Homo sapiens: one gene and its partner. The gene in region 2 interacts genetically with the main gene of each other region. Each region holds a gene or a part of one and is shown on either strand. Other genes may lie near its edges.

What was found.
Region 1: of CHD1L (region 2) and PARP1, a change in one rescues a mutant of the other (synthetic rescue), as found in Homo sapiens cells (one study listed by BioGRID).

The regions. Positions count from the first base shown.
Region 1 is NC_000001.11:226,401,056-226,416,997, reverse strand, and holds the start of PARP1 (poly [ADP-ribose] polymerase 1), read left to right. Parts: upstream 1-8,904; 5' UTR 8,905-9,068; coding exon 9,069-9,188; intron 9,189-14,618; coding exon 14,619-14,784; intron 14,785-15,942. UniProt on the Homo sapiens protein: Poly-ADP-ribosyltransferase that mediates poly-ADP-ribosylation of proteins and plays a key role in DNA repair.
Region 2 is NC_000001.11:147,233,111-147,249,406, forward strand, and holds the start of CHD1L (chromodomain-helicase-DNA-binding protein 1-like), read left to right. Parts: upstream 1-9,573; 5' UTR 9,574-9,593; coding exon 9,594-9,720; intron 9,721-10,029; exon of another isoform or gene 10,030-10,080; intron 10,081-16,296. UniProt on the Homo sapiens protein: ATP-dependent chromatin remodeler that mediates chromatin-remodeling following DNA damage.

The DNA of each region.
Region 1 (15,942 bases), about 79 Mb from region 2:
AATAAATAATTGATAATACAACAATATTAAGTATCAACTGTGGAACAACTAGAACTCTCATATATTGCTCTTGAAGGTGTGACTTGATACAACCATCTTGGAAAACTCTTTGGCAGAATCTACCAAAGCTAAACATATGCAAACCCTATGACTTGGTAATCCCACTCCCAAATAAACATCTAACCGAAACTGATATGAAGGTGAACCAAAAGGTATGTACCTTCAAGTGGATAGCAAAAAAACTTGAAATGGCCCCCAAAAAATAAAAACAGCCCAAACCTCCATCAGCAAAAGAATGGAAAGTAAACTGATGACTGGTCACCCAATGAAATAGTACATAGCAATGAGAATGAACAAAGTGCACCCACACGAAACCATATGGGTGACCCTCACATTCATAATGTTGAGTAAAAGCAGTCAAGTACAAAAGATCACATAGTATATAATTCCACTTATAAAAAAGCTCAAAAGCAAAACTATAACAATAGAAGTCAGAACTGTGGCTGGGGAAGAGCTGGGAGTGTTCTACACTCTGACCTGGCTTGTGGTCATAGAGGTGAATCCCTCAGTAAAAAATTCATCAAACTGTACACTCCAGGTACACACATGTCACTGTATGTATGTTATTCTTCAAAAACATCATTACAAATAAAATTAGAAAATCGGCCAGACACAGTGGCTCATGCCTGTAATATCAGCAGCACTTTTAGAGGCCAAGGTGGGCGGATCACTTGAGTCAAGGAGTTCCAGACCAGCTGGGCAACATGGCGAAGTCTCATCTCTACAAAAAATACAAAAATTAGTCCCAGCTATTTGGGGGGCTGAGGCGGGAGGATCGCTTGAGTCCTCAAGGTCAAGGCTGCAGTGAGCCACCATGGCACCACTGCACTCCAGGCTGAGCGACAAAGTGAGAACCTGTCTCAAAAAAAATAAAACAGGCCGGGCGTAGTGGCGCGCACCTGTAATTCCAGCTACTCAGGAGGCTGAGGCAGGAGAATTGCTTGTATGTGGGAGGTGGACGTTGCAGTGAGCCGAGATCACACCGCTGCACTTCAGCCTGGGCAACAGAGTGAGACTCTGTCTAAATAAAATGAAATACAATAAAATAAAAGCAGAAAACCATTTACTTCTCAAAATTCAAAGGATTGTGCATTTCCACATATGTTCACAGCTGTGGATATTGTTAGTCTCACACCTATAATCCCAGGTGTGTTGCTGGTGGATGTATAAACGGGTACAGCGTTTCCAAAGGGCAATTTGCCAGAATCTCTAAAGATTTTAAATGTACACACCTCATCAGCAACCCAGCTTCTAGGAATCCATCTCAAAGAAATCATAGTAAAGGTATACAAAGACAAATGTAGAAGGGTGAAAATGACAGCATTATTTTTCACTTTTTTTTTTTTTTTTGTGAGACAGAGTCTCGCTCTGTCACCCAGGCTGGAGTGCAGTGGTGTGATCTCAGCTCACTGCAACCTCCACCTCCCAGGTTCAAGCAATTCTCCTGCCTCAGCCTCTAGAGTAGTTGGGAATACAGGGGTGGGCCACTACGTCTGGCTAATTTTTGTATTTTTAGTAGAGACGGGGTTTTACCATGTTGGCCAGGCTGGTCTCCAACTCCTGATCTCAGGTGATCTTCCCACCTCGGCCTCCCAAAGTGCTGGGATTACAGGCGTGAGTCACTGTGCCCGGCCTATTTTTCACGTTTTTTAACAGAAAAAGAAGAAAAAAAAGGAAACAACCGAAACAATCTAATTTTTTTTTTAAAACCAAGTAATTTATGGGAAGATAGACTGAGCACATGTCATTTAACACCCCTCATGTCCCAAATCCCATGAAGTCAGAGAAGAAGTATCTTAAAGTAAACTAATGTATCCCTAATAGAACAGGAAAAGCATACAGCAGTGTGCCATCAGTGCTTTTGGATCACTTCCTATTCACCCCATTGGTGGAGGAGGGATCTCCCGCCCTCAATAGCATGTGATGGTCAAGGACATGGTACCTGACACTGGACAGAAGAGGCTGGCAGCAGCTTATTGCTCAGAGTCTGGGGGAGAAGGACACCGCCCACCCTGCAGGGCCACATAGGGGCTGCCGTGGGGAGCAGAGTGAGCCAGCAGGGACTGTGGGAGGCAGGCTTTGTAGTGACAAGATGGTGGGGTGACCCTTGGATCCCACATGAGGATGCAATTGGCTTGTTTGAATCTTTTGCCCAGCTGGCAGGAAGGTGAAATCCATTAAGTTGGGGTCTAGGTAGGTAGGGTACAGCTGATCCAGTTGACTGGGGAACCGGCTGGCGGGGAGCCTTTCCTGCTGGGTGGGGAAATATCTAGTTAGTGCCTGGGAATTCATGTTAGGCCCTGTGAGGCCCAAGGATGGAATCACAGGCCTCACAATCTGCAGTGGACCTATATATCAGGAAGCCCTGCAGGATGGACAGCACACAGGATTAGGTGCATGTGGGAGACTCCCAGATAGCAGCCGAGGAGGGGCCTGCTGCCGAGCCAGGAGCGAGTAAGGAAACTGCAAACCCAGGCAAGGAGGAGGGGGTCCTGGCATCTGTCAAGGTGGTGTGGGCACAGCCAGTGTGGGGATGAGGGAGGCTCTGTGGCTCCAGGCTGCTACCAACCCCTGGGGAAGATGGAACTCCCACAGCCAGAGACAACCCACTGGCACCCCCATCGCAGGGGCACACACCCACCCTCACCTCCCCACACACAAAGTCACCAGACGTAGCTGTGGAAAGAAAGCAGGAGATAGGTATCAAGATCGTCTCAAATACACAAATGAGCAGATAAGCAAGAACCACTGAATTGTTGAAGACCGTCAACACTGTGAAAGACACCTACAATAAACGCAGTGAGCTCGGATTCAGTGTTACGGTGACTGGTGATGGCGTCCTTCTTCCCCCACACCTCATTTTCAAATAGGAGCAAGATAAATCGTGTCATGCGATAAGGGGATAAGGGAGGAGAGCATGGAAGAGAGCACAACCAGGTAGGGAAATAACACGTGACCCTCTTCAGAAGTGGGAGGAAGTGGTACGGTCCTTCTTGTCCCAAAGATTCTCCAGATCTACTCTCCCTGGATCAGGCCACAAACAGGGGAGACTCCTGAAAACGCTGCTGCTCTCCATAAGTCCCAGGAAGCCACAAGACCCCAAATTGAACCCATCAATATGTAAGCTGGGGTGGAAAATTGCTACCCGGGAGTATCAAACCACAGCCATGACCAGGATGAATTTGGACCCACAGCCACATCCTGAGAACCAGCTATAGTTGGAGGCTCAGAGCAATCTTCTCACTAACCTCACAATTACACAACCCCACATCTTACCATTTGTGTTTTGGAACACGACATTATGGAAGGGTCTTACTACACCAAACTCAGCAGAACTGACAAAACCTAAAAATTAAAGACATATCATTAAGAGAGCAATAACTTCTAGACTATATTACATTCATTAAACATCAGCTCAAGATACTGGAAAGTAAAACATGTAATGGCTAAAATTTGTTAATCTAATGAAAGATGGACACAGCAGAAGCTTTTGTCAGTGACCCAAGAAATTAAGCTGAGACAGCTTCTCATTAACTCGCCAAAAGTTAAAGAGATAAACAGAACATTATGAAATTGGGAGGGTATTTCTAAAAATGAAGCAAAGCAAGTAGTCAAATCAATGATAGAAAAAAAAAAAGTGTCCCCACATCTGAAGATCTGATTTTTTGGATTGCAGGGCCATTTAGTCCTGAGGAAGAAGAATAATGTAAGATACAACTGTGGCAGACACTGCTAGTTGTCCACGGAAATCTGTCCCTGCCTTCTTCCCAGACATAGGCTAGCCTGCACTCCCATCTCCCTTGTCTCTAGGTGTGAAATGGGAGCCCAGCTCCTCTGTGCAACTTCTGCCTCACCTGCTTAACAGGAAATCCCTGGTGTGGGGCTTTAGACATCCCCCCCACCCCACCACCACACACACATACACCAGCAGTCAGAATTGTGTGTCTCTCTTCTTTCTTTTTTTTCTTTTTGAGACAGTCTTGGTCTGTCGACCAGGCTAGAGTGCAGTGGTGCAATCTCGGCTCACTGCAACCTCTGCCTCCCAAGATCAAGGGATTCTCCTGCCTCAGCCTCCTGAGTAGCTGGGATTATAGGCATGCACCACCATGCCCAGCTAATTGTTTTGTATTTTTAGTAGAGACAGGGTTTCACCGTGTTAGTCAGGCTGGTCTCAAACTCCTGACCTTGTGATCCGCCTGCCTTGGCCTCCCAAAGTGCTGGGATTACAGGCACGAGCCACCATCTCTTCTTTCCACTCCTGATCAATCTTGACAAAATATAAAACCAAACCAAGACAAATCAACTTTGTAAAATAAAGATAAAGTTGGAGGTCTCACACTTTCTGATTTCAAAACTTACTATGATGTGGCGTTGGAATAAAGACAAACATATAGACCAATGGAACAGAATAGAGAGCCCAAAAATAAACCCTCAACATATATGGTTAAATGATTTCAACAAGGGTGCCAAGATCATTCAGTGGGAAAAGGACAGTCTCTTCCACAGATGGTGGATCTCCACATGCAGAAGAATGTAGCTGGACCCATACCTTACACCAAATGTTTGTTGTGAGTTTATTTACTTTTTTGTGTGTGTGGAGACAGGGTCGTGCTATGTTGTCCAGGCTGATCTAGAACTCCTTACCTAGAGACACTGCCAAGGTAAGTGAGGGCCAAGTGGACACTGAGTGATTCTGTGCCTCACTGAGCAAAAATAACTAAACATGGGCGAAGGAGAGCCCAATGATCCCAGGGACAAAATGTCATCACGGGCATTCTGCGCACGCTTGCCAGGATACAGGAGAAGCAACCAGACACTTCATTCATCTTCTCAGAATGTTCATTAACATGTTCAGAAAGGTGGAAAACCTTACTTGCTAAAGAGAAGGAAATTGGAGGCATGGCCAAAAGTATTCAAGGCCCTTTATGAAAAAGAAATGAAAACTGATATCCCTCCTAAAAGAGAAGTAAAACAGAAATTCAGAGATTCTAATGCACCCGAAAGGCCTCCTTTGGGCTTTCACTTTGTGTTCTGAGTACTGCCCTCAAATCAAAGGAGATCCCGGTCTGTCCACTGGCAGTGATGCCAAGAACCTGGGAGGGACATGAGTGACCATGCTGCAGATGGCAAGCAGCCCAAAAAGAAGGCTTCTCAACTGAAGGAAAAGTACCAAGAGCAGAATGCTGCATATCCAGCCAAAGGAAAGCTGATGTGGCAAAAATGATGCTGTCAAGGCCGAAAAAGGCAAGAAAAAAAAACAAAGCGGAGAAAGACAGAGAAGGTAAGGAAAATAAAAAATGAAGTCGATGATAATGACAAATAAGGTGGTTCTATGGCAGCTTTTTTTTTTTTCTCTTGTCTATAAAGCATTTAACCTACCTGGACACAGCTCATTCCTTTTAAAGAAAAAAATTGAAATGTAAAGCCACCTAAGATTTATTTGTAAACTGCATGATGGCGTTCTTTTTCTGTTTTTGTATTATTAACAAGAATTATCAAGTAATTCTTCAGACAACCCTGTCCTGGTGGTATTTTGTATAGCCACCAACTTTGCCTGGTATACTATAGGGGTTATAAATCAGCATGGGAATTTCAAATTTAAGGCACAGTATAAGTTAGTTATATACAAATGTGAAGTAACATTATTAATTAAACTGTTGGCCTGTGCGAAGGGAGGGCCAACTGTGGGATTCAGTCATTCATTCAACAAATATTGGTGAGTGCCTGACACTGTTCCAGGCACTGAGGCTATTGCAACAAAACAGACACAAGCTCCTGCCCTCATGGAGCTTACATTCTGGTGAGGGATACAGAGCCACCAAAAAGGATGGCAGCTGGGCCATGAGAAAGGATCAAAGTCAGGAAGTTAGAATTCGGGGATGGATTGAACATGGGACAAAAGAGAAGAGTCAAGTTGACTACAAAGCATTTGGCCTAAGTAATGCAAAGAATGGTGGGCCATTTCCTGAGATGGGAAGCACTAGGGTAGTTTTGGACATAAATGGAGATGCATATAAGCCATCCAAACTGAAATATTGAGAAGGCAGTAGGTGATAGTTGGCTTTCCTTAGGTTCTAGGGCAGGAATTCTTAACCTTTTGTGTGTGTGCCTAGGACCCCTTTGGTGGTCCATGAAGCCCTTTCCAGAATAAATATTGTGGAGGAACCTACCTTAATGCAATAGTAGCTTCTAGGTACATTATCAGGCAAACTATCCCACAAGTTACAAAACAGAAAGCCTCACAGACCAAATTATGATGCTTGAATTGCAGGGTTTATTGAATCAGTTTAAAACCACTTACAGCAAGAACTCGATGGGGTGCATAACATACACAGGATAGGGTACAGGCGAGGCAGATGGACCACACCACCAGAACCTAGAATTAGGGAATCCTCCCCTCCCCTCCCCTCCCACCCCTCCCCCCTTCCCCCTCCCCTCCCCTCCCCTCCTCCCCTCCTCTCCCATCCTCCCCTCCCCTCCCATCCTCCCCTCCCCTCCCCTTTTCTCTTCTTTTCTTTTTTTGAGACTGTCTCACTATGTTGCCCAGGCTGGAGTGCAATGGCGTGATCTCGGCTCACTGCAACTTCCACCTCCTGGGTTCAAGCGATTCTCATGCCTCAGCCTCCCGAGTAGCTGGGATTACAGGCACGCACCACAATGCCCAGCTAATTTTTGTATTCTTAGTAGAGACGGGGTTTCACCATGTTGACCAGGCTGGTTTTGAACTCCTGACCTTAGGTGATCCACCCGCCTCAGATTCCCAAAGCGCTGGGATTACAGGCATGAGCCACTGCACCTGGCTAATATTGATATGTTTTCCCTCTCTCTGCCGCATCAGCCTGTCCCACTGACAGAGTTGAGGATGCTCAAGGCGGCTCAACAGAGGGTACCTGGAGCAACTCACACTGCACTATCAGAGAGACACAAGTGCAAGCACACTCAGCCACAGCTGCAGCTCACCAATCAGCCTGCTGAACAGACCTGAACTTTAGCTGCATTTTTGGGGCAGAGCATATGGGTGCCAGGATGGGACCATAATCTTATCACCAATGAGTGGCCATTTAGGGATGATATAGTTGTCAACCCAGAGATGGCATGATCATGCCTTTTGACTTGGTCATTCTCTAAGTAAAACTTTTATTTGTTCCATCATATTTTCCACTTATTCTGTTTACCTTCAAAATATCTTTTTTTTTTTTTTTTGAGACAGGGTCACACTGTCACCCAGGCTAGAGTCCAGTGGCACTATCATGGCTCACCACAGCCTCAACCTTCAGGGCTCAGGTGATCCTCCCACTTCAGCCTCCCGAGTAGATGGGACTACAGGCACCTGCCACCACCCCCAGCTAATTTTTGTAGAGACAAGGTTTTGCCATGTTGTCCAGGCTGGTCTTGAACTCCTGGGCTCAAGGGATCCGGCCACCTCAGCCTCCCAAAGTGCTAGGATTATAGGCATGAGCCACTGTGCCCAGCCTACCTTCAACGTATCTAACTGGTTACTAACTTTTAGGATTCGGCCTATGTCTCACAACCTTCTTGCTTACTCAACATCCTTGTCTCTTAAGCCACTAGCTTCTTCTCTATGGTTAACACTTTTTATGAGTTTTATTCATCTGCTTATTTTTCTTATCCTCTATACCAGAATTGAATATTTTCAAATAAAGCACACTCATGTTACAATCTTTGAAATGAAAAAAAAAAATGCATAGGATTAGAAAAGAAACCAATTTTAATAAACTATATTTTGAAGTATAGTTCTATATTAAACAACAAGATCTAGGCCAGGTGCAGTGGCTCATGCCTGTAATCCCAGCAATTTGGGAAGTCGAGGTGGGAGGATTGCTTGAGGCCAGGGGTTCAAGACCAGCCTGGGCAACATGGAGAGATTCCCCATCTCTTTCTTTACACACACACACACACACACACACAAAATATCTGATAGCAACAGGTGCAGTCATTACCACAATTTCGAGTAGTGATGAGCTTAATAATATTTCGAGTTATCACCAACAACTGTAAAGTAACATGAAAACGTCTGTGATGACTATTGCCCACAAAGTCACAGGTACTGCTAATACTCCTGGTATTTGTAGTCAAATTCATAATAAAGGAAATGCTAGGTTTCAGTTGGTATTTTGTCCCGACGGTCTGTGGACGGCAGGTTAGAACGCCCGTCCAAGCCAGGAGGGTGGACCTAGCACTGCAGGGTCCACCTCGGGCCAATCAACTATATTCCCGAGGCGGGGGCCTGCGCTTCCCGGACCCAGCTGCCCTCAGGGGAGAGAGGACACACTTAAGAGTTTGGGGCCGGCGTGGTAGCTCATGCCCCTGATCCCAGCACTTCGGGAGGCTGAGGCGTGAAGATCACTTGTAGCAGGAGTTTGAGACCAGTCTAGCCAACTTGGCGAGACCCTGTCCCTAAAAAAAATTTTTTTTTAATTAGCCAGTTGTGGTGAGCGCCTGTAGTCCCAGCTACTCGGGAGGCTGAGGTGGGAGGATCGCTGGGCTCAGGAGTTCCAGACTGCAGTGAGCCATGATGGCGGCACTGCACTCCAGCGCGGTGAGACTCAGTCTCAAAAATAAAAGGGGGAGGGGTTGGGGGTAAAATTAGTTGTGAAATCAAGTAAGACTTCCTGGGACAGAACAATCAAAGGGGTGGCGCCGGGTCCTCCAAAGAGCTACTAGCTCAGCCCAAGCCCCGCCTCGGCCCCCAGGGCAGCGGCCCGCAGAGCTCCACCCGGCAGGCGCCCGGGAAACTCCGCCCCCCGGCCGGCAGGGGGCGCGCGCGCCGCCGGCCCCGCCCCGTGGACGCGGGTTCCGTGGGCGTTCCCGCGGCCAGGCATCAGCAATCTATCAGGGAACGGCGGTGGCCGGTGCGGCGTGTTCGGTGGCGGCTCTGGCCGCTCAGGCGCCTGCGGCTGGGTGAGCGCACGCGAGGCGGCGAGGCGGCAGCGTGTTTCTAGGTCGTGGCGTCGGGCTTCCGGAGCTTTGGCGGCAGCTAGGGGAGGATGGCGGAGTCTTCGGATAAGCTCTATCGAGTCGAGTACGCCAAGAGCGGGCGCGCCTCTTGCAAGAAATGCAGCGAGAGCATCCCCAAGGACTCGCTCCGGATGGCCATCATGGTGCAGGTGCGGGCCGCTGTGCGGGCGGCGGGGCGGGGACGCGGCGCCCCGGGTTAACTGTGTCCGGGAAGGCTGGGGGAGGGCGGGCCCAGGGAGCGAGCGGGCCCGGGCCCTCGGAGCGGCACTTGGGGCCTATGGGGCCGCGGCCGCCCCTCCTCCCGAGCGGCCCGGCCGACCCTTCCGGAAGGTTTTGCTGATGTTGCAGGAAAAGCCCGGGAAATAAAGTCTGCAGCTGGTGTTGCCTTTCGCTTTGTGAAAACGAGGAGCCTCTTCTCTTCTCCTTTCTGGGTGGCGGTGTTTTATTACTGCCGTTCGCCTCAGGGGTTGGGGGGGAATTGTACATGGTCTCTTTAAGCTAATCTGATTTTGACCTATCTTGTTCTGGAGGGTTTTTGTTCTACATGGATGGTGGCGACTGACATGTGGGTTTTTTTTTTTTTTGTTAAACCTATTTTTGGCAGTCATTTCAACACGTCATTTAAACGCTCACTCTCATTTTTTATTTTAATTAGGCAGAACTATGCAGAAAGGTGTCATTTCTGTACAGTACATTCACTTTGAGCCTAATTTGTGCTTTAAAGTAACATTTTCCCCAAATTTTCCAGATTCACAGACGCGTTCTCTTGGTGCATTTGCAGCTGTCTGGTTTGAGTAAGAGTGGCTCCAGGGGGGTTTCTCATGTGGGCTTTTTGATAGATTGAATCCCCTTCTGAGGTTTCCTGAGCCTTCTGTGAGGTGGTGGGCTTGAAGGCCCCTGTCATTTCCCAGGGGCTCCTGCCTCCAGCTTCCAGTTTGCCGATGTCTACCTTTGTATTAATAATTCTGGTTCTCATCTGCCCTGTTCCTCCTCGCTTCCAACATATTACCCAAGCTTAGTGCTCATGGTCAAGGTAGCTTGATTTTCCTCCCTTCCATGAGCTGTAATGTGTTTTAGGAATGACCAGATATCCCTCAGTGGATTTTCAGTACTTAGTACAAGGGAGGGCGACATTTACCGAGTGGATACCCAAGTGCCAGGTGTACTTCCGTTATCTTATTTCACAATATGCCTGTCATCTTGGTGTCCTCGGGGCATACCTAAGTCAGTACGTGGCACACAGTGCTTATTTGGTAGGCATTTTTTAAGTTCTAAGCACTCTGTTAGGTTTTAAGGACACAGAATCCACCTTTGGGAATTTCCAGTTTGGTTAAACGGGAAATGACTGGTAAACAAACGTTACCGTAAGAGAGGATGGATGCCACCTGATGGAGCTGTGCTCTAGGCATTGTGTGCCTAGGAGTCCGAGATGACCCAGCTAAGGGTGGAAGCTTGATTAGGAGTCGTTAATTCACAGAAGTGGAGCAGAAAGATGAGAATAGGGAAGTAGACAGGGCCTACAATTTGAAGAGCCTTGTTGCCCACTAAGGAACCTAGAACTTACTTTGAATATACAAGGCAGCCTGTTATGAAGTTCTCACTCCTGGTGCAGGAGCTCTTAACCCAGGGTCTGTGGGATGGTAGGTAGAAGGCAAGAGGTCCATGAGTTTAGATAAGAAAAAATTGATATCTCCATCTCCACTAACCTCTAGATAAAATTATTTCCTCTAATCATAAATGTAAGCAGCAAAGCAAAGGCATATTAGCAGTCCCTATTTTTTTTTCACCAGTGATAATTACAGATATTTTCATATCACTTTACAGTTGGAAGTTTTTCAAAATATAATTTACTCTCATTGCTACAAAAATCACAGTTATTAGAGGCTGTACTAGATCTTGTTATTTAATGCTTAAAAGCTCACGGGTTACTGTACCCAAATTACCTTTCAAATGTTTTGATAATTATCTCAGTGTTTCCTTTTCGAGCCTTTTTGTTTGTTTTGTTTTTTGAGATGGGGTCTCACTATGTTGCCCAGGCTGGTCTCAAACTCCTGAGCTCAAGCGATCCATGCACCTCGGCCCCACAAAGTGCTAGGGTTACAGGCATGAGCCACCGTGACTGGCCATTTGCGAGCCTTTTTATTACGCATTTTTAAATGTTATTCTGAGAAAGGGACATCCAGGCGCCTTAACAGGTGGGCAGAGTACCGTGTTCTGGTGGAAAGACAAACAAAACCCAAGTCCAGACTGTGTTGAGGCTAGAACAACACCGCTGTGGAGGAAGTTAGAGGAGGCTTAGCTGTGGGGGAGGCCGGATGGAGGAAACTGAACCTGATCAAGTTTAGCATTCTGGGGCCGGGCTTGGTGGCGCATGCTTGTAATCTCAGCACTTTGGGAGGCTGGGGTGGGCAGATTACTTAAGCTCAGCAGTTTGAGACCAGCCTGGCCAACATGGTGAAACCTGTCTCTACAAAAAAATGCAATGATTAGCGGGTCGTGGTGGTGCGTGCCTGTTAAGTCCCAGCTACTCCGGAGGCTGAAGCTGGAAGATTGCTTGAGCCTGGGAGGTGGAGGTTGCAGTGAGCTGAGATAGTGCCACTGCACTCCAGCCTGGGCGACAGACCCAGACCCAGACCCAGACCCTGTCTGAAAAAAAAAATAGTAATAACAACATTCTGGGCTTTCCTTTGGTATACTTGATAGTGAAAGAAACTCTTTATTATTAAAAGTAACTGTGATTTTTATGTAATGGTGATTAAGGGTGGATTCAGAGTTTTAATTCAGAATTTAAAGTTGGTCTGGTAGACTGAGCTGGTGAAGGCCAAAAAGAAAGAAGCCTTTTCACTTGCTTGAATTTAAATACCTTCTTTTACATTTACATGGGAGTATTGTTCTCTGAGTATCTGATACCTGACACTTTAGCCCTCATGCCTGGGGCATCTTGGGAGGGATGAGCTGGGCCCTCCAGCATTTTGGTGGGAGGAGGATGGCGGTAGACCTTTGAGTTGCTCTGTCCTGGGAGGGTTTGAGCACCCGGAGGCATGCAGTGAGGTCAGTTCATTCTCTCTGTGGCCTAGGTGGACAGGTAGCATGGCCTGTTCTGCACAGAAGGGAACCCAGTTCACCAGCTGCTGGTTGGGTGAGGACCCTGGTATGTTAGGTGCTCAGTTTTTGCTTGGGTGCACAGCCAAAGATTCTGTGCCTTGCCTCAGCTGTGCAGCTAACAAATGGAGTCGATAGTCTTGTGACCTTGGTTTGGTGCCTTTCTGCCACATCATTCTCAGTCCTGAGTTTAGGGCAAAGCATTGCTTTGGTCAGGGGTGCTTCTGCTGAGGCTCTTGTCCTCTAAGCTTGTGCTGTGATTGCACCATTGGGCAGCACCTCCAGGGTGTCCAGCACTGTGCCGGTGGTTGGGGGAGACAGCACCCAGACCAAAGGGCAGCAGGTCTGGGGCCCCTGGCAGAGCCAGGAAGAAGTGCCATAGCCATTACCTGTGCTCTTTATACAAGGGTAACTGGAACATTGCACAGGAAGGGTAGACAAGGGGTAGACAAGCAGGCAGAGCCAGGTCGAGGCCATTGCAAATATTCCATGATAGCCAGATGCTTAGGGATCTGTATCAGCAGCCTAATTGAGATCTGGTGGAACGTTTGAGAGTTGGAACATGAGTATGCTCTCAGAAATGCCATTTGTTGTCTCTTCTACAGCAGGAATTTCCCCATCCTTCCTTTTTTGTTCCATCTGACTTGGAGCCCTAAGCAAACACTGCGTGCCCTCTGTGACATGTTGCTAGAGAATAGCAAGATAGGCCCTTATGAAATAATCACCAAATGCATAGTTCTTAGTGAGGGGAGCTGTGGAAGGAGCATTGGGAGATCTGAGGGAGTGCTCTGAACAGGGCTGGAGAGCATTCCAGACCCAGGGGAAAGCTGATGTTGAGGAGTCCTTGTGCTGCCATAGTCTTAGCTGTGCATTTTAATACATCACATCCAGAAAGAGGCCACTCACAGTGGAGAGAGATAGTGGGGTACCTTATCATTGCTTTTCCAGAGTATTTTCCCTGTCCCCGCAACTCCATCCTAAAAATTCAGCACATTTACTTTTAATGCTGTTTTAATAGTCTTATTGCATCTGTGTGACATTTAGCTTTATGTTCTATAAAAGCAGATGTTTGGGACTTCCCTTACTTTAGTCAGATCACAGTTGGTGTATTTTTAAGTAGCTCTTCCTGCCGGGCAGTGGAGTGTGGTGGGAGGAATCATAGTGTCAAATCATTCATTTGCTGCCTCTGTGACTCCCAACCCCCCAGGCAAGGATTTCCAGCCCCACTGTCTCCATCTGTGAATGAAAGGGCTGGTTCCCACCCAGAGGCAGATTGTGGGATTACACAGGATGGCTTATGAAAGGAGCAGGGACACACACTACATACTGTGTCTTCCCCTTCTTCCCAATCGCTGTCACCGTCCACTCTGTAAAGCCAGGACTGGGTGCAGTGGTTCATGCCTGTAATCCCAGCACTTCGGGAAGCCGAGGCGGGCGGGTCACGAGGTCAGAAGTTCGAGACCAGCCTGGCCAACATGGTGAAGCCCCATTGCTACTAACAATACAAAAATTAGCCAGGCATGGGTGGCACGTGCCTGTAGTCCCAGCTACTCAGGAGGCCGAGGCAGGAGAATCGCTTGAACCCAGGAGACAGAGGTTGCAGTGAGCTGAGATCGCACCACTGCACTCAGTGCAAGACTCGGTCTCAAAAACAAAGCCAGACAGTGCTCGAGGCCTGGGAGCAGAACCTGACCCTGTCACAATGAAAGGCCTAGTGGGAAGCAAACCACCTGGAGAGGGGAACTGTGTTCCCTGTGGCCAGACTTCTCAGGTCCTACGCCTGGGAAACTGCGCCCCAGAAGGCCAGTGAGCAGCTGACTCCAGCTCTAGGCATGCTGCCCCGAACCATCCGCTGTCACAGTTGCCTCAAAGACCTCCATTCATTCCACTCCCATCTGTGTGGCTGCTGCAAGCTTGACACTTTTTTCTGACACACTTTCTCTGCTTTGCTCATTATCTGGGACTTGTTCCTTGTTATTCTTAACTGCAGAGGCACTTAAAGAGCCCTTTTCTGGGGCACACAGGCCCTTTGAGTCCAGGCAAGCCTGGAGCAGTTGTCTGGCCATTCCCAGCAGATGCTGCAGGATTGTGACTCTGCACAAGTGTCTTCTGTGCATTTCACTAGGCCATGAGGCAGCTCACCACTAAATGTAGCAGTGTGTGGTCAAAAGGGACGTGGGGCAGAGCTCAGTGGTAAAAGGCCACCTTTCTCGTGGCTGTGTTTGGTGTCCTAAGAGAATGAGCTCAAGAACAGTGGGCTACAGTCTTCTGACCCTTGGGGAAGATCGTGAGAAGGATGCTGCAGCTCTTCATGTGAGAGCGGAGGCTGTCCTCCTTTCACAGATAGGAGAACAAAAGTTTCATGTGCTATCCCACTGCTGGGGCTGGGACTGGGGTCGAGGTCAAGGTCAAGGTCTAGTGGGTCTAAGTCAAAAGTTAACTGCTTACTTACTTCCCTCTGTTTCTCTTCCTTCTAGTCGCCCATGTTTGATGGAAAAGTCCCACACTGGTACCACTTCTCCTGCTTCTGGAAGGTGGGCCACTCCATCCGGCACCCTGACGTTGAGGTGGATGGGTTCTCTGAGCTTCGGTGGGATGACCAGCAGAAAGTCAAGAAGACAGCGGAAGCTGGAGGAGTGACAGGTGTGTACATACTGGGGCAGCATGGGCATTCAGCCCCCACCCTGAAGCTCCCAGGAGGGCCTCGTCTCAGAGAGCAAAGCAAACCTCCCCCAGCTTGCCCTCTCCCACATGTGCAGATCAAGCGTATGGTGCCCATGTTATTTCAGCAACACCTCCTGGACTCAGCATCATCTGTTGCATGATATTTGGTATTTTGTTTTTCCAGGTGCTTGGAATGTAGCCTTTAAAGTTGTTTTGTTTTTAATATACTTTATTTTTGTTCATGGCAAAAGTAAGCAAAGAACAAAGAGTTTCCAGTACCCCCTCCCCCTCCCACCACACAGGCTCTTCCTTGTCAACACCTCCCACCAGAGTAGTACATTTGTTATAATTGAGGAACCTACACTGACACATCATTATTGCCCAGAGTCCAGAAACTCCTGATGCTCTACATTCTATGGGTTTGGACAAATGTATGATGACATGCATCTGCCATTATAGTATCATACAGAGTAGTTTCAGACCTGCACCCTTCTGCAGCCCCCTTAAGATTAAGGAAGAATAGCTCATCTCTGAGAGGGGAATGAGGTAGGAGGTGGGGCTCAGACACCAAACCAAACCGAGGACTAACTAAAGCAGGGACAGGGACGAAGCAGCTTTCCATAAAACACCCACCAGTGTGCCATATCAGTTTACCATTGCCATGGCAATACCCGGAAGTTACCACCCCTTTCTGTGACAACAATCTGATGACCTAAAAGTTACCACCCCGTTTCTTAACATGTCTGCATAGTCTGCCCCTTAATTTGCATATAATTAAAAGTGGGTGTAAATATGACTTCAGAACTGCCTTTGAGCTGCTGCTCTCAGCACAGTGCCTGTGGGGTAGCCCTGCTCTGCAGGAGCAGTCACAGAGCCATAACACTGCTGCCTCAATAAAGCTGCTTTCTTCTACCACGAGCTCGCTCTTAAATGCTTTCCAGAGCGAAGCCAAGGACCCGCCCAGGCCAATCCCCAATTTAGGGCTGGCCTGCCCTGCATCAGTTTCACTGCTCTAAAAATCCCCTGTTTATCCCTCCTAATTCCTGACAACCACTGCTCTTTTTACTGTCTCCACAGTTTTCTCCTTTTATGTCTTCTCCCATGTCTTAGTACAGGTCACGTCAGGTGACATAGCAG
Region 2 (16,296 bases):
GCCCCATCTGGGATGTGAGGAGCGCCTCTGCCCGGCTGCGACCCCGTCTGGGAGGTGAAGAACGTCTCTGCCCAGCCGCCCCGTCTGAGAAGTGAGGAGACCCTCCGCCTGGCAACTGCCCCATCTGAGAAGTGAGGAGCCCCTCCGCCCGGCAGCCGCCCCGTCTGGGAAGTGAGGAGCGTCTCCGCCCAGCAGCCACCCCATCCAGGAGGGAGGTGGGGATCAGCCCCTGCCAGGCCAGCCGCCCCGTCCGGGAGGGAGGTGGGGGGTCAGCCCCCCGCCCGGCCAGCCGCCCCGTCCGGGAGGGAGGTGGGGGGTCAGCCCCCCCGCCCGGCCAGCCGCCCCGTCCGGGAGGGAGGTGGGGGGGGTCAGCCCCCCGCCCGGCCAGCCGCCCCATCCGGGAGGTGAGGGGCGCCTCTGCCCGGCCGCCCCTACTGGGAAGTGAGAAGCCCCTCTGCCCGGCCACCACCCCGTCTGGGAGGTGCACCCAACATGCTCATTGAGAACAGGCCATGATGACAATGGCGGTTGTGGAATAGAAAGGGGGGAAAGGTGGGGAAAAGATTGAGAAATCGGATGGTTGCCGTGTCTGTGTAGAAAGAAGTAGACATGGGAGACTTTTCATTTTGTTCTGTACTAAGAAAAATTCTTCTGCCTTGGGATCCTGTTGATCTGTGACCTTACCCCCAACCCTGTGCTCTCTGAAACATGTGCTGTGTCCACTCAGGGTTAAATGGGTTAAGGGCGGTGCAAGATGTGCTTTGTTAAACAGAAGCTTGAAGGCAGCATGCTCGTTAAGAGTCATCACCACTCCCTAATCTCAAGTACCCAGGGACACAAACACTGCGGAAGGCGGCAGGGCCCTCTGCCTAGGAAAACCAGAGACCTTTGTTCACTTGTTTATCTGCTGACCTTCCCTCTACTATTGTCCTATGACCCTGCCAAATCCCCCTCTGCGAGAAACACCCAAGAATGATCAATAAAAAAAATAAATAAATAAATGCTAAACCGTCACAGCTGTAGATCATGAGCCTGCTCTTTTGACCCCCACATTCTCACCACCTGATTCTCTGTTGGATTACCAATAAACAGCGTGGGCTCCCAGAGCTCGGAGCCTTCGCAGCCTCCACAATTGTGATGGCCCCCTGCTCCCACTTTACTTCTCAAACTGTGGTTTTCTCAATCCTTTGACTCTACCGGACTTTGTCACCCCCAGGATCTGGTGTTGGGTCTGATCACCCCAACAGCATCCATTCTATGCCTGCTATGTGCTAGGTACTTTGTTACCCAGAGAGGAGGAAGAGAAAGTGCATATCTAAAAAAGATGAGGAGATAAATCACAGCCATCATGGTAGGCTGAAAACATCGTCCCCAAAGACATCCATGTCCTAAGCCGCAGAACCTGTGGATGTTATAACACATGTAAAGTGCCCACACGTGGCCTGGCATGTAGTTGGAGTTCAAGTATTAGTCAGCATTAATTGTAAAAAATTATTTTGTTTTCTAACTTAAAAATGTTTTTACTAATTTATTTTGAATGGACAAATAACAATTGTCTATATTTATGGAGTAATAGTGAAAAATTTGAAATGACTTCATAAACGTTCATCAAGATGGGGAAGGACTATATTACATATTATATTTAATGAGATGAATTTATACTGACATGAAAAAATTATGAAAGATTTTAACCAGCATGGCCCTTATTTCATTTGTATAGTTTCCATGGCAGAGGGTAGGAATAATTTGGGCAAGCACATTTAAAGCTTCAACTTATATACTAGGGTAAATCACATCCACTCATATTCCACTGTCCAAGGCAAATCACAGGGGTTCTTCCTATTAGGAAGCACTGCAAGTCACATGACTAAGGGCATAAATGTATAACCATCTTGTGGGGAGAAAGTGGATAGTTAGGAACAGTAATACAATCTATCAAAGCTGGTTAGAGCCCACCATGGAGTAGATATCCCACACTGTGTGTGTGTGTGTGTGTGTGTGTGTGTGTGTGTATGTGTGTGTGTATTTCTGTTTACTTTTATGACCCATATCTGTGGGCCACACATATGGGGAAAACACTATGCCTGTAGACACCCCAAGCAAATGAGATTACCATGGAACCTCAATAATGAGGGATAACTTCCAATTTCTTAATTCTCCACTGATGAGATGTGGATACTTGAGTGATCCCCAGGCTCATTCCCAAGTGAAGATTTTCAGTCCTTCGTAATACCTTGGACATTCAAATTTGTATTTAGTTTCTTGTGAAAAAATTTTCATTTAATTTTTACAACAGCATTATAGGATAGCTACTATTATCCTCATAATTCACTATGCATTATGGGCCTTTCAGAAGCACTCTGATTGTTAAAACCCTCTAATTAGGAAGCCTAATTAGACATGCCATTTTTGAGCAATTTGAGGGGATAGAGGTGGGGAACCCCCTTGCATCAAAGTTATAACTGTGCCTCAGGGATAGATACATGTGCAACAGAACCCAGAATAGGTATGCTCATTTTTCAAAACTAAAACCCAGGCTTTATAGGGTTAGGGTAAAAAAAATGGCTTTGGATTCTTGTCAATCAGAGGAAGAAGAAGGTCATAGAGAGTTCTTAGGGTCATAATTTTACATTGCCTAAAAATATTTTAGAGTAGGGTGAATCATGAGAAACATTTTGGCTTCCTATGGTATATTATTGAGACAACCTGTCCCCTACATGGAAATATTGTCACGGGATTCTTGGGGTGTTGCTTTGTGAGACAGAAACCTCTGTGGCCATTGGTACTTTTGCACAAGTTTTGCTCAAGCCTATTGGGCTTGTTTGGTCCATTCAGCCTGGCAGGCTGCACATGGCTCATGCTACCAGCCTGGATCCCATGCCAGCCAAGGGCCAGCCAGATGCAGAGCAGAGAGGGGTGTGTGAGCAAATATGAGGTCCAGCCACTATGCACAGCCAGGCATGCCAGCTGTGGCAAGGCAGGCAGCTCCAGGTGCCAGTATGGGCACTGACTCCCTGTGAGGCTCCAGCTGGACCAGGGGTGCCACAAGCAGATTTCATGGCTGGCACTGGAGAATGCAGTGGTGCCTGGAAGCTTGGAGATGCCAAGAGCTAAAGAGCCCCAAAGAGGGTGTCACAGCCCTGGCTCAGTGAGCTCCTAGGTCTGGGCTTCCCAAAGGGCTGCAGCTCCTCTCTCCTTCTCTCTTCTCTCCTTCTTGTTGCCCACAATGTGGCAAGCAATGGGCATGTTTCAGCCCTGTTTGTGTTACAACTCTTTTAGCTCCACCATTTGGCGGGTCCTGAGTTCTTGTCCTGCGTCCAAGTAGAATGATGTAAGTTGACAAGTGGAGGGTAAGCAAGGTGAAGAGAAACTTTATTGAGTGACAGAACAGCTCAGAGGAGACCCACATTGGATAGTTCCTCTCCACAGGCAGGTTGTCCCATTGAGTGTTCAGTTCTCAGCAGAGAGGAGACCCTGGAGTGGGTAGCTCCTCTCTGCAGTTGGTTGTCCCAATGTCTGCTTAGCTCTCACAGAGAGGAGACCCTGGAGTAAGCAGCTCCTCTCCACAGCTGGCAGGTCATCATTGTCAACTCAGCTCTTAGCAGAGAGTAGACCCTGGGGTGGGTAGCTCCTCTCTGCGGCTGGTTATCCCACTGTCTCAAGTCTGGCTGAGTCTGGGGCTTTTACAGGCCTCAGAGGAGAGGAAGTGTGCGCCAACTGGTCCATAGGCACCCAGATAAAACACAAGTTCTCACTCTGGTTTTTGGGACCAGCAGCCCAGCCTCCAGGCTTCAGGCCCTCCCCAGCTTGAGGGTAGGTCTTCACCGGTGACCTGCTCCCTTCCACCCAGGAGACTGCCTCCTGCTGGCATTCACAGCACCCAAACTGTTTGTGCAAAGGGGCACCTGCAGGCAAGCACAGAGGCTGAGCTGCCCCAGCACCCCCTTGGCCTCCCTCCCATGCTGGCACCCAAAGTCCTGAGGGGGCCAAAGCCATGTGTCAGTGCTGCCTGGAGTGGGTGCACACCTGGCCAGGCTGCAATAGCACCCAGCCTCAGCTCCAACCTTGCTCTGGGAATGGAGTGGGTGCTGGGAGCAGAAAGAGGCCAGGCAATGGGAGGAGACACTTCTTAGCCTGCAGGAATGGGGTGGGAGGTCTTACAGGGCCCCCAAGAGTGCAGAGATGCCCAGGTCTGCAGCTGTGGTTTGAGCAGCTATAGCTGCACCCAGGAGGGTGGGGCTCCTGCCTGCTCCAGGAACCCAAGAGCACAGGGAGGCCGAGTTGGTGGACATGACTCAGGCAGCTGCAGCTGTGCCTGAGAGGGTAGGGCTCCTGCCTGCTTTTAGCCCCAAAGAGCACAGGGATGCCCAGGTCTGCAGCTGCAGCTGGGCAGCCACAGCTGTACCTGGGGAGCAGGAAGCTCCTGCCCTGCCAACTCAGAAGGAGGCAGGGCCTCCACCTGTTCCTGGTTCCCCCAGCTCCATGGAGCTGGCAGCCCTGGTGTGCCACCCCCATTGCAAGTGGCATCATGACAGCAGCTGCTCTAGATAGGCCGTCACTGCCATCAATATGTCACAAAAGTTAAATTTCCAGTTTGGCAAACTCAAAAGCCTTCAGGGACTAGCTGGGCAGATTGCATAAACGTTACACTGCTGGTTGGAGAACATAAAGAATGAAATTCTGGGTGACCAATGTGATGGCATGGCATGACAGTCAAAAGGCATCCAGTTAAAAAGGAAAACACTGTCCTTTCAAGCAAAAAGACCGTGGGCAAATTTTGATGCCTACAATTTCTAAACTATGTTCTCAAAGATTAACTTGATAATATTACTATTTTACAACCTTACCTTTGATAGTAAAAGGGAGTGGCAATTCTCTGAGGTGACTGGGCAAGAGTCCTGTGAAACCAACTTACTTTTTTTCTATACTTCTATACTGTGGTATATTTTCCCTGGCTTTCTGGGTTCTAAATTTATTACATGTTATTTCATGACAAAGAGGTATACTGGCATCAAAAGTCAAAACACAGTTTTTCATTTCTTGCAAGAAAGAAAACCCAAGTTAAGTGTTTTTCATCCCAGCACAAAAATCTTCCACCCATGGGCACGGACCTAATTCTAACCTAAGCTCAAAGTTCCAAGTTCATTTACTCAAGAGGTCTGAATAAATGTTTACTTTGGTCACAGCTTTTATCCAATTTCCGTATCTGACTCACTAGGTGCTTCTAACTGGTGCCCTGATGTTACCTAACAGAGCAAGGATACAACAAACAGCAAACATAATTTGTTTCTTAATCTGTGCTTAATCCATGCTTGTTTTGGTAATGTCTGCACATGCTAAGTCCCACTGACAGTGTTAGTTGGTTAGCATTAATCTTATGGAGTTGCTGTTGCCAAAGGACATATCCTTTCTGTGGAGGAATAAAACAATTAACAAAAACAGCATGATTGTATAACCTGAACAATGAATGAAAAATGAGTTGAGGCTAAATTTTATTCTGGGAGTTAATCACGACTCACAGAAAACACTGGACCAGCTTCCTAAACTTTCTGTGCCTTGGTTTGCCCATCTGTGAAATGCACTCTCTGTACTTCAAAGTTATAACAATCATATGCCCTAGATTTTAAAATTGTTCCACAGGCACCTCATTCAAACATTCAACAATATTTATTGAGGGCATACTATTGTAATGCCTAACCTTGTTTTTACTAACCCTGTTTTTAGATTCTCTCTTTCCTTTAATCACCTAGCCTTGTTTCCACCTGAATTGACTGTCCCTTAGCTAAGAGAGCCAGACAGACTTCATCTTGGCTCTTTCACTGGCAGCCCCTTCCTCAAAGACATAACTTGTGCAAGCTGACTCCCAGAACATCCAAGAATTCAATTAACTGATAAAATACTGTGGCGAGCAATATCCGCAGTTCCCAGGAATTCGTCCAATTGATAACGCCCAAAGCCCCACGTCTATCAGTTTGTAAGAGTCTTAAAGCCCCTGCACCTAGAACTGTTTACTTTCTGGTAATCATTTATCCTTTTAACTTTCTGCCTACTTTACTTCTGGAAAATTGTTTTAACTAGACCCCCCCTCCCCTTTCTAAACCAAAGTATAAAAGAAAATCTAGCCCCTTCTTCAGGGCCAAGAGAACTTTGAGCGTTAGCCATCTCTCAGCCGCTGGCTAAATAAACAGACTCTTAATTCGTCTCAAAGTGTGGCGTTCTCTCTAACTCGCTCAAGTACAACACTATGTGCCCAGCACTGTTTGTACAAATCCAACACATCCCACCAGTTGCTCGGGCCACATCCCTGAACCCAACCTTTGCTTCTTCATTTCTCCCAGATGCTCAATCAGTGAATCCTATAGGCTCTATCTTTTCAATAGATCTAGTAGCAGACCACTACTCACCACTCCACTATCACCATGCTGGCCCCAAAACTATCAACTCTTGCCCAGACTACTGCAATAGTTTCCAAACTGCCTCCTTCCTTCCATCCTGATCATCTACAGATCTCTTCATACAGTATTCAGAGCAAAACTTTTCTATGTGTCACCTCACTGGCAGACCTGGAGTCTCTCAGCTACCTTTCTTAGCTGTATTTTAGGTACCAGACTTAGTATACCAACAGTCTACCTGGCTTATAGCTAGGACTCTATCATCTGGTATTCTGTTACAACAAATGTACTTTAAGTTAAAAATAATAAACAGGCTTATATTTAAGTGGCAAGTGCTTGATATGGCTGCTTTAGCAGATAAGTCTACTGGTAGAATCTAGAGGAGAGGAAATAAGTCATACATGGAGACCAAGATGCAAAAACCACTCATGAGCAGCCACATAGGACAGAGGTCCCTCTGGAGAAGCCACCAAAGGATATAAATCTCTCTTCAGGTTTGTTTTGAGAAAACACCCAAGCAGGAAAGCTGCTGTACAAAATTACTATTGCCCCATTATGCGATTGTGTTTTACTTTTGTCTTAGCATTAATCCTACCTTGTGGGGAAAAGAAAGAGAGCTCAGACTGCTACTGTGTCTGTGTAGAAAGAAGTAGAAATAAGAGACTCCATTTTGGTCTGTTCTAAGAAAAATTCTTCTGCCTTGAGATGCTGTTAATCTGTAACCCTACCCCCAACCCTGTGCTCCCTGAAACATGGGCTGTGTCCACTCAAGGTTAAATGGATTCAGGGCTGTGCAGGATGTGCTTTGTTAAACAAATGCTTGAAGGCAGCATGCTTGTTAAGAGTCCACTCCCTAATCTCAAGTACCCAGAGACACAATACACTGCGGAAGGCCGCAGGGACCTCTGCCTAGGAAAGCCAGTTATTGTCCAAGGTTTCTCCCCATGTGATAGCCTGAAATATGGCCTTGTGGGAAGGGAAAGACCTGACCGTCCCCCAGCCTGACACCCATAAAGGGTCTGTGCTGAGGAGGATTAGTAAAAGAGAAAGGAAGGCCTCTTTGCAGTTGAGATAAGAGGAAGGCATCTGTCTCCTGCTCATCCCTGGGCAATGGAATGTCTCGGTGTAAAACCCGATTGTATATTCCATTGACTGAGATAGGAGAAAACCACCTTAGGCCTGGAGGTGGGACATGTGGGCAGCAATACTGCTCTTTAAGGCATTGAGATGTTTATGTGTATGCACATCAAAAGCACAGGACTTTTTTCTTTACCTTGTTTATGATGCAGAGACATTTGTTCACATGTTTTCATGCTGACCGTCTCTCCACTATTACCCTATTGTCCTGCCACATCCCACTCTCTGAGAAATGCCCGATAATGATCAATAAATACTAAGGGAACTGAGGCTGGTGCCAGCGCAGGTCCTCTGTATGCTGAGCGCCGGTTCCCTGGGCCCACTTTTCTTTCTCTATACTTTGTCTCTGTGTCTCTTTTTTTTCTTAAGTCTCTCATTCCACCCGACGAGAAATACCCACAAGTGTGGAGGGGCAGGCCACCCCTTCACTACCTGATTTTTATTTATTGCTTGTCTCCTCCTTTTAAAATGTAAGATCCAGGAGATAAGTGGCCTCTATCTTCAGTACCATAGAGTGCTTGGCACATAGTATGTAATTCAGTCAGTGTCAGGCCTCTGAGCCCAAGCTAAGCCATCATATCCCCTGTGACCTGCACGTACACATCCAGATGGCTGGTTCCTGCCTTAACTGATGACATTCCACCACAAAAGAAGTTTAAATGGCCCGTCTTTGCCTTAAGTAATGACATTACCTTGTGAAAGTCCTTTTCCTGGTTCATCCTGGCTCAAAAAGCTCCCCTACCGAGCACCTTGTGACCTCTCACTCCTGCCCGCCACAGAACAAACCCCCTTTGACTGTAATTTTCCTTTACCTACCCAAATCTTATAAAACGACCCCACCCCTATCTCCCTTCGCTGACTCTTTTCGGACTCAGCCCACCTGCACCCAGGTGAAATAAACAGCTTTATTGCTCACACAAAGCCTGTTTGGTGGTCTCTTCACACGGACGCGCATGAAAGTCAGTATTTATGAATGACTCAAGACACAAAAATAGCTTCATAAAACAGTGCTTTGCTTGAGTTTTTATGAATAAACCAATCTGAAGTCATCCCTTTTCTAGCTCAGAACAAATTTCTCCCTTTTATTTTAGAGGAAGATGAGAATGGAGGGTACAAATTTAACATGAGTTTACTGAAGAAGGAAGCACCAAGATTAACCTAAATGAGAATACTATTCTAATGACATTAGCCAGAGAATAATATCGTTCCTGTTCCAGTACTGCCAATTACCATTACAAGTCCCAATATCTTCATTTACAATGTGGGGACAATTATAACACCTAATTATTGGTTATTGTGAAGGTTAAATAAGAAAATATACTTAAAGCCCTTAGGACACCACCCAGAACTTCATCAATAAATGCAGCTATTTTGTTATTATCATATTTATATTAGTGGTATACTACATCATAAATCCACTCAAAGCTGATGCTGAGTCACGGTGACCCCTAACTGAACACATTGCCTCAATCTGCTCCCCATAATGCACTTGAGATACCCACTGCCACAATGACGTCTTTGGTGATTTTAATTTACTACTATTCAGAGGTTCCCAATTTTGGCCTACAGGTCACAGGCAGTAAGAAAGGGATTTCAGGGACTAAATCAATTTATCACTAGGTAAACCGAACAAGAACAGTTTGATCTTATCGTGAATCACTGGAGGGCACGGAACAAGTCTTACTTCTAGAACCCCCAGGGCCCAGCGGAGTGTCTGACACATGATAGTCGATGTTGATTAAATAATAAATGAATGATGAACACATGCCACCTCCTTGACGGGCAGTTCAGGCAATCAGACGTCCTGTGCGTGATCAGACGCCTAGCGCTTCAGAAGCACGACTGGTGAGAACTGGGCAGCCCTTCCACGCTCCGCACTGCAAGAACTGCCTGTCCGGAAGGGTGACTGCACCAGCTCCGCTCCGGATATCTTGGCAGGACGCGCCCTCTGGCGGCGCCTCGCTCGTAGGTGGGCCCCAGCGCGCAGTCGCGCGCCCCCGCGCGTTGGGAAGTTGGGAGGGAGGTGCGCGCTTGGCCGCGCGGGGCGGGGCCTCTACCGGCCCGATGGAGCGCGCGGGCGCTACTAGCCGCGGGGGCCAAGCCCCTGGCTTCTTACTGCGGCTTCATACTGAGGGCCGAGCCGAGGCGGCGCGGGTGCAGGAGCAGGACTTACGGCAGTGGGGGCTGACAGGTGAGCGGGCTCCGGGCGGACTTCGGCCAGGCGGGCCAACCTATTGGGACTGCCTCTTGCGGGCCGGGGGCGCAGCGGGTGGGCCGCCCGGTGGGCAGTTTACCCGCTCGCGCCAGGGCCTTCCTTCGCTCCTGCCGTGGGCGGAGAGAAACTGCGCCCGGGCTTGGTGGCCACGGCCCCCGCCTGCGCGGCGCGCGGGGCCGGCGGACGCCAGATGAATGAGGTCGCGGGCCCGGTAGCCAGGCCTGGCCCCTGGCCTGTGGAGGGGAAACGTGGTGAGATCAGCGCCACCTGCAGGCCTCCGCTGAAGAGTTGGACGGCCTGGTGCACCAAGGATGTAGGTTTCCAGTTGCTGTTCCGGTGGGTTTGGGTCCCGGCCTGGGGAGTTTATTGGTTGCTTCTGTAAAACGATCAACTCATCTCCCAGCTTCAGCTTCTCCGTTTACTGTGCGCGCGCAGTTATTGGAGAATTCGCCACGGATTAATTCTCCGGATCGAGTTACGTGCGGTAGTGAGCGGACAAACTCAAGCAAAGCACTGTTTATGAAGCTATTTTTGTGTCTTGAGTCATTCATAAATACTGACTGAACCACGTACTATATGCCAACTTAGCTTGTCCGCTCACCACCGCACGTAACTCGATTTATTGACACTAGCCCTTACGGAGAGTCTGCAAAGCGCGAACCTTGCATGCCCCCCAGCCCTGCCGCTGCATGGCTGACCGTACTTCCTGCAGCTCCGAGACCCCGCTCTCCTCCTGGGTCTGCGCTGACTCGCCGCTGAACCGCCCCAGCCTCGTTTTCCTTACTTATAAGTTGGGAACGTAGTGTGTGCTTTGACTGTATTGACAGAATCATGCATCAGTAATAATACAGTCGTTTATTCATTACTTATTGAATGCTACTGGGAGCGTATTCTTAGGCATTGGCTACAAAGATGAGCAAAACAAATAGGGACCCTTCCTACCTAGAGTTTTAGACTAGTGAGAGTGCATTTAAAAGTATAAACTAATTTATTTAAGTGCTCAGTACCACGAAAGAGTAAGGTTTGTCATTCTAGGAATGAAACAAAAGGTGCAATTCTGTGTTCAGCTTAGAAGACTGAAAGATGAAGTTGAATGGAGAGGACGCTGACATGAAAGAGAAAGACCTCTCTCCTTGATTCCCTGAGTCTGTAAGAATGTGTGGCTGTAAGGAGTATGTATCCAGTTTTAAGTATGAGCTTGTAGACTGGTCTTTTTATGTTTGACTTTATCTTAACGAAAGTTTATGTTTGTGGGTTTGCCTATTTCCTTGCAAGTGTTGGGAATGGTTCTTTAAGAACTTGTGTGAGAGAGGGCTCAGAAAAGTGTGCCAGTTGATACTTAGCTGTGGATAATATGCCAGGAGAAACGTACATATGGGCAAGTGTTTTAGTGAAAATGAGGAGACAAGAGGTTGCAAGTTTGAGTGGATGGAATGGAGTGAGTAAATTCAGAATTAAGTAGGCAAATGTGGCAACTTGGATAAATTGGTAGTGGAGAAGGAAAATAGAAAAGCAGAGTCAAAGGAATGGCTACTGAATATTATAACTTGTAATTTCTATTTCTGTTTACCAGAATAAACTAGTGTTATGAGAAACTATTCTTCATGAGTTGGTTAAAAAAATTCTTACTACTTTTTTTTCGTTTGGTTACAGAAGTAGTACGTATTTTCAGTAAAACATTCAGGGAAATAGCCTATGCATAAAGAAAATAAATATTAATCTCCATAATCTCCTTACTGTTAACATGTTCTCTATCCTGTATAATTTCTTTTACTTTCTGGTGGAGGGGGAAGGTGAAAAATGGAGTTTCATGTACATTTTTTTGGGAAATCATAACTTTTTTTCCTTATCATTCAGTCTTCTTCAACATCATTCTTAATGGTTACAGTTTTTCAGTATATGGATGTACCATAGTTTAGACAGTCCCTCTTCTTGGTATTTAGGTTCTTTTTTTTGCTATTGTAAGTAACATAAATATCCTTGTAACCAAATATTTATTATAGGTATGGACGTTTAATTCCTGAAAGGTACCATTTCTAGAATAAAGAGTATGCAAAATTTTTGCTTATTTCTCTATACTCTCAGCAACACTGGTATTTTCTAATTTGAGAAGTTAATATGCTATCGTATTGTTTAATTTAATGTTTATTTGGTTACCAATATTGATGGACATTTGGATATTCATCTTTGGATCATGAAGTTACCTTAGGACCTTTTTGTTTCTGGAATATGCAGACCTATTACTTCTTGCTGTTTTGCTTGCTTTTTCACTACTTGTCATCTCCCTGACAGAAGGGCAAAAGAATCTACATCTGGAGGTTAAAAAGCTAAAGACTACCTTTCCCAGACCCCACTGTAGTTTGGTTGTAAACGTGACTTGGCTTTAGCCAGGCACGTGACTGGGAGATTTGGAAGGGGAAAGTGAGGGGAAGGACACAGAGGGGTTTGGATTTTCCGCTTCCCACTTAGCTACTACCTCATGGGTCTGTGGGAGGGTACAGAGCATTCATTTTGTTATCATGGATTGTGGCTGCGTTGATAGGTCCCTGGGGCTGACAGTACCGTGGCCTCCTGGTTGGTTCCTGGCTTCCAGGTCGTGGAGGTAGATACTTCCTTGGTGTGTCCATACTGTGGTGCTTGATTTAGCAGTTGTACCCAGAAGATCAGCCTAGATGTTACTCCTCCAGGCCTTTCGACAATTTTGTGGTGATCTAATTCCCTGTATTACATTCCTTTCTGCCTAACCTACCAAGGGTAATTTCTGGTTTTTGCTGTTGACTCCTAAGTGTTAAGTATTGTTATCTTTGTGGATATAATTACATATTATTTTTGAAAATTCAACTTTTTTTTTTTTTGAGATAAGGTCTCACTCTGTTGCCCAGGCTGGAGTGCAGTGGCCCATTGCAGCCTCGACCTGGGCTTCAGTGATCCTCCCACCTCAGCCTTCTGAGTAGCTGGGACTACAGGCATGAGTCACCAGTTTTAAGAAATAATACGGAAGGATCCCATGTAACCTTTACCCAGTTTCCCCTCGTGGTCATATCTTGCAATGTGGCACATTATCACATTGTGTACACTTGCAATGATGGTACACTATCACAACAGGATATTGACATTGGTACAGTCAAGATCCAGAACATTTTCCATCTCCACAAGGATCCCTCAACTTGCACTTTGATAGCTACACTCACCTCCCTTCTACCTCACCAATTCCTTAACCCCTGGCAACCACTAATCTGTTCTCCATTTCTATAATTTTGTCACTTTGAAAATGATAGGTGAGTAAAATCATACAATATGTAGCCTTTGGGGACTGGCTTTTTTTCACTCAGAGTAATTCTCTGGAGATTCATCCAGGTCGTTGCACGTATCAGTAGTTTCTTTTTATTGCTGAGTAGTACTCCACAGCACAGTATACCACAGTTTGTTTCACCACTCACCCACTGAAGGATATCTGAGTTGTTCATAGTTTGTGGCTATTGCCAAAAAAGAAAAGAAAGATATTGTAAACATTTGTATACAGATTTTGTATGAAAATAAATCTTCATTTCTCTGTAATAAATGCCTAGGAGTGCTGTGAGTGGGTCATATGGTAGTTGCATGTTTAGTTTTTAAAGAAGCTGCCAAACTGTTTCCAGAGTAGCTGTACTATTTTACATTCCCACCAGCAATGTATGACTGAGTTTGGATTCTTTGCATCCTTGCCAGCATTTGATATTGCTACTTTTTTATATTGACTATTCTAATGTATGTGAAATGCTATCTCATTGTGGCTTAGATATGAATTTCCCTATTGGCTAATGAAATATGTAACCTCTTTGATAAAATGTCTTTTTCTGTCTTTTGCCCATTTTAAAATAGGATCCTTTGTTGTTGTTGTTTTTTCACTGTTGAGTTTTGACATACTCTAGTCTTTATATAATCTAGATACTAATATTTTCTCAGATATATGTCTTACAAAAGTTTTAAATTTTGGCTAAAATTTATCAGTTTATCAATTTTTTCTCTTATGGATAGTTTTCTTGTTGTTTGGTGTCAAATATAAGAACTCATTGGCTATTCCCAGATCCTAAAGAGTTTTTTCCTAAAAGTTTTACAGCTTCTTATTTAAGTCCATGATCTACTTTGAGTTAATTTTTGTTGCACAAATTTTGATATGTTGTATTTTCATTTTTATTTAGTTCAGTGTATTTATTTCCCTGGAGACTTCCTCTTTTGATGGACTGTTTAGAAAGAAGTGTGTTGTCTAGTTTCCAAGTGTTGAGAGATTTGCCTCTAATGTTTCTGTCCATGAATTCTAATTTTATTACATTGTGGTCAGAGAACATACTCTGTACAATTTCAGTTCTTTTAAATGTGTTGGGGTTTTCTGGCCCTGCTTTAGTTTGGATATGGATTATCTGTCCCCACCAAATATCATGTTGAAATTTGATCCCCAGTGTTGGAGGTGGGGCCTAATGAAAGGTGTTTAGGTCATGGGGGCAAATCCTTCCTGAATAGATTAATGCTCTCCCTGAGCAGGGAGCAGAGAGAGTGACTGACTTCTTACTTACTAGCTTCCAGAAAGCTGGTTGTTAAAAAGAGCCTGGCATCCCCCACGCCTTTCTTCCTCTCTCACCATGTGATCTCTGTACATGCCACCCCCACTTCCCCTTCTGCCATTAGTGGAAACAGTCTGAAGCCCTCACCTGAAGCAGATGTTGGTGCCATGCTTCTTGTACAATCTGTAGAACCATGAGCCAAATAAACCTCTTTTTATTTTTAAATTATCCAACCTCGAGTATTCCATAGCAACACTAAATGGACTAAGACAGGCCCTGAATATGTTGTATGGTCCATGGCACTTGAAAACAATGTGTATTCTCCTGTCTTTGGGTATCAGCAGAGCTGCATTCCTTTCTGGAGGCTCTAGGGGAGAATATATTTCCCAGCATCCAGAGGCTGCCCACATCACTTGACTCCTGGCCCCTTTCCTCCAACTTCAAAGCCAGAAACATTGCATCTCTTTGATCCTTCTCTAGCCAGCTTCCTCTCTAACCACAGCTGTTAAAGTTTCTCCGAATGATGCATGTGATTAGATTGTATGTCCATTGCGTTATCCAGGCCCACCTGGATAATTCAGGGTACTCTTCCATCTCAAGCCCCTTAACCTTGATTATGTGTTCAGAATGCCTTTTGCCATATAAGGTCACATACTCACTGATGCCAGGATCAGGGCTTGGACATCTTTGTGAGGGCCACTATTTTGTCTACCACTTCTTCCTTTTACTTTTCACTTATTTAATTATTTTTGGGTTGAATTTCTTGTAGACAATTTATAATTGGGTTATGTTTAAAATCCACTCTGGAAGTCTTATTTTTTTTTTCTTTGAGACGGAGTTTCGCTCTTGTTGCCCAGGCTGGAGTGCAATGGCACGATCTCAGCTCACCGCAACCTCCTGCCTCCCAGGTTCAAGTGATTCTCCCACCTCAGCTTCCTGAGTAGCTGGGATTACAGGCATGAGCCACCATACCCGGCTAATTTTGTATTTTTAATAGAGACGGGGTTTCTCCATGTTGGTCAGGCTGGTCTTGAACTCCCTACCTCAGGAGATCCTCCCGCCTCAGCCTCCCAAAGTGCTGGGATTACAGGTGTGAGCCACTGTGCCCAGCCAAGTCTTTGTCTTTTAATTGGTATACTTACACCATTTATATTTCAAGTAATTATTACTATGTTTGAGCTTAACTCTGCCATCTTATTTTTATTGTTTTTAGTTTATCTCTGTTTCTTTTTCTTGCCTTCCTGTGAATTATTTGAACATTTTTTAGAATTTTATTTTTGTTTATTTACAGTGTTTTTTAGTTTATCTCTTTGTGTAGCTTTTTAGTGGTCGTTACGGGTATTGTATGTAAATGTACGTATGTGTGTATAAAATCACAGACTACTGATATTGTCATTTTACTTATTTGAGTAAAGTATGGAAACATTACTTCCCTTTATATAAACATTACTTCCCTGTATATCTATCTTCCCTTTGTATTTATAGCTTTACTTTTTGTTTATAATTGTCTTAAATATTTCCTTTAGAACCACATCAGACACTGTTATAATCTTTGCTTCAGCGGTCAAACATAATTTTAAAAACTCAAGAAAAGGAAAACCTATTGTATTTACACGTTTTTGAATGCTGCATTCTCACCTTGATGTTCCAAGGTTCCATCTTTTATCATTTCCTTTTTTTCCAAGGGCTTCCTTTAGCCATTCTTTGAGGGTAGGTTTGTTGATGATAAATTCTCTTTGTTTTCCTTCATCTGAGAATTTCCTCTTCATTCCTGAATACCATTTTTCTTGATTACAGGAGTCTGGATTGACAGTTCTTTTCTTTCGATATTTGAAACATGTTGTGGCATTTCTTTCTGGCCTTTAAGATTTCTGACAAGAAATCTGCTTGCATTTGAATAGTTTTTCCTCTTTAAGTAAGGTGTTGTTTGTTTTTTTTCTGGCTGCATTTAAGATATTTTCTTTGTCTTTTGTTTTCAGCATTTTAATAATTACATATCTTGGTGTGTATT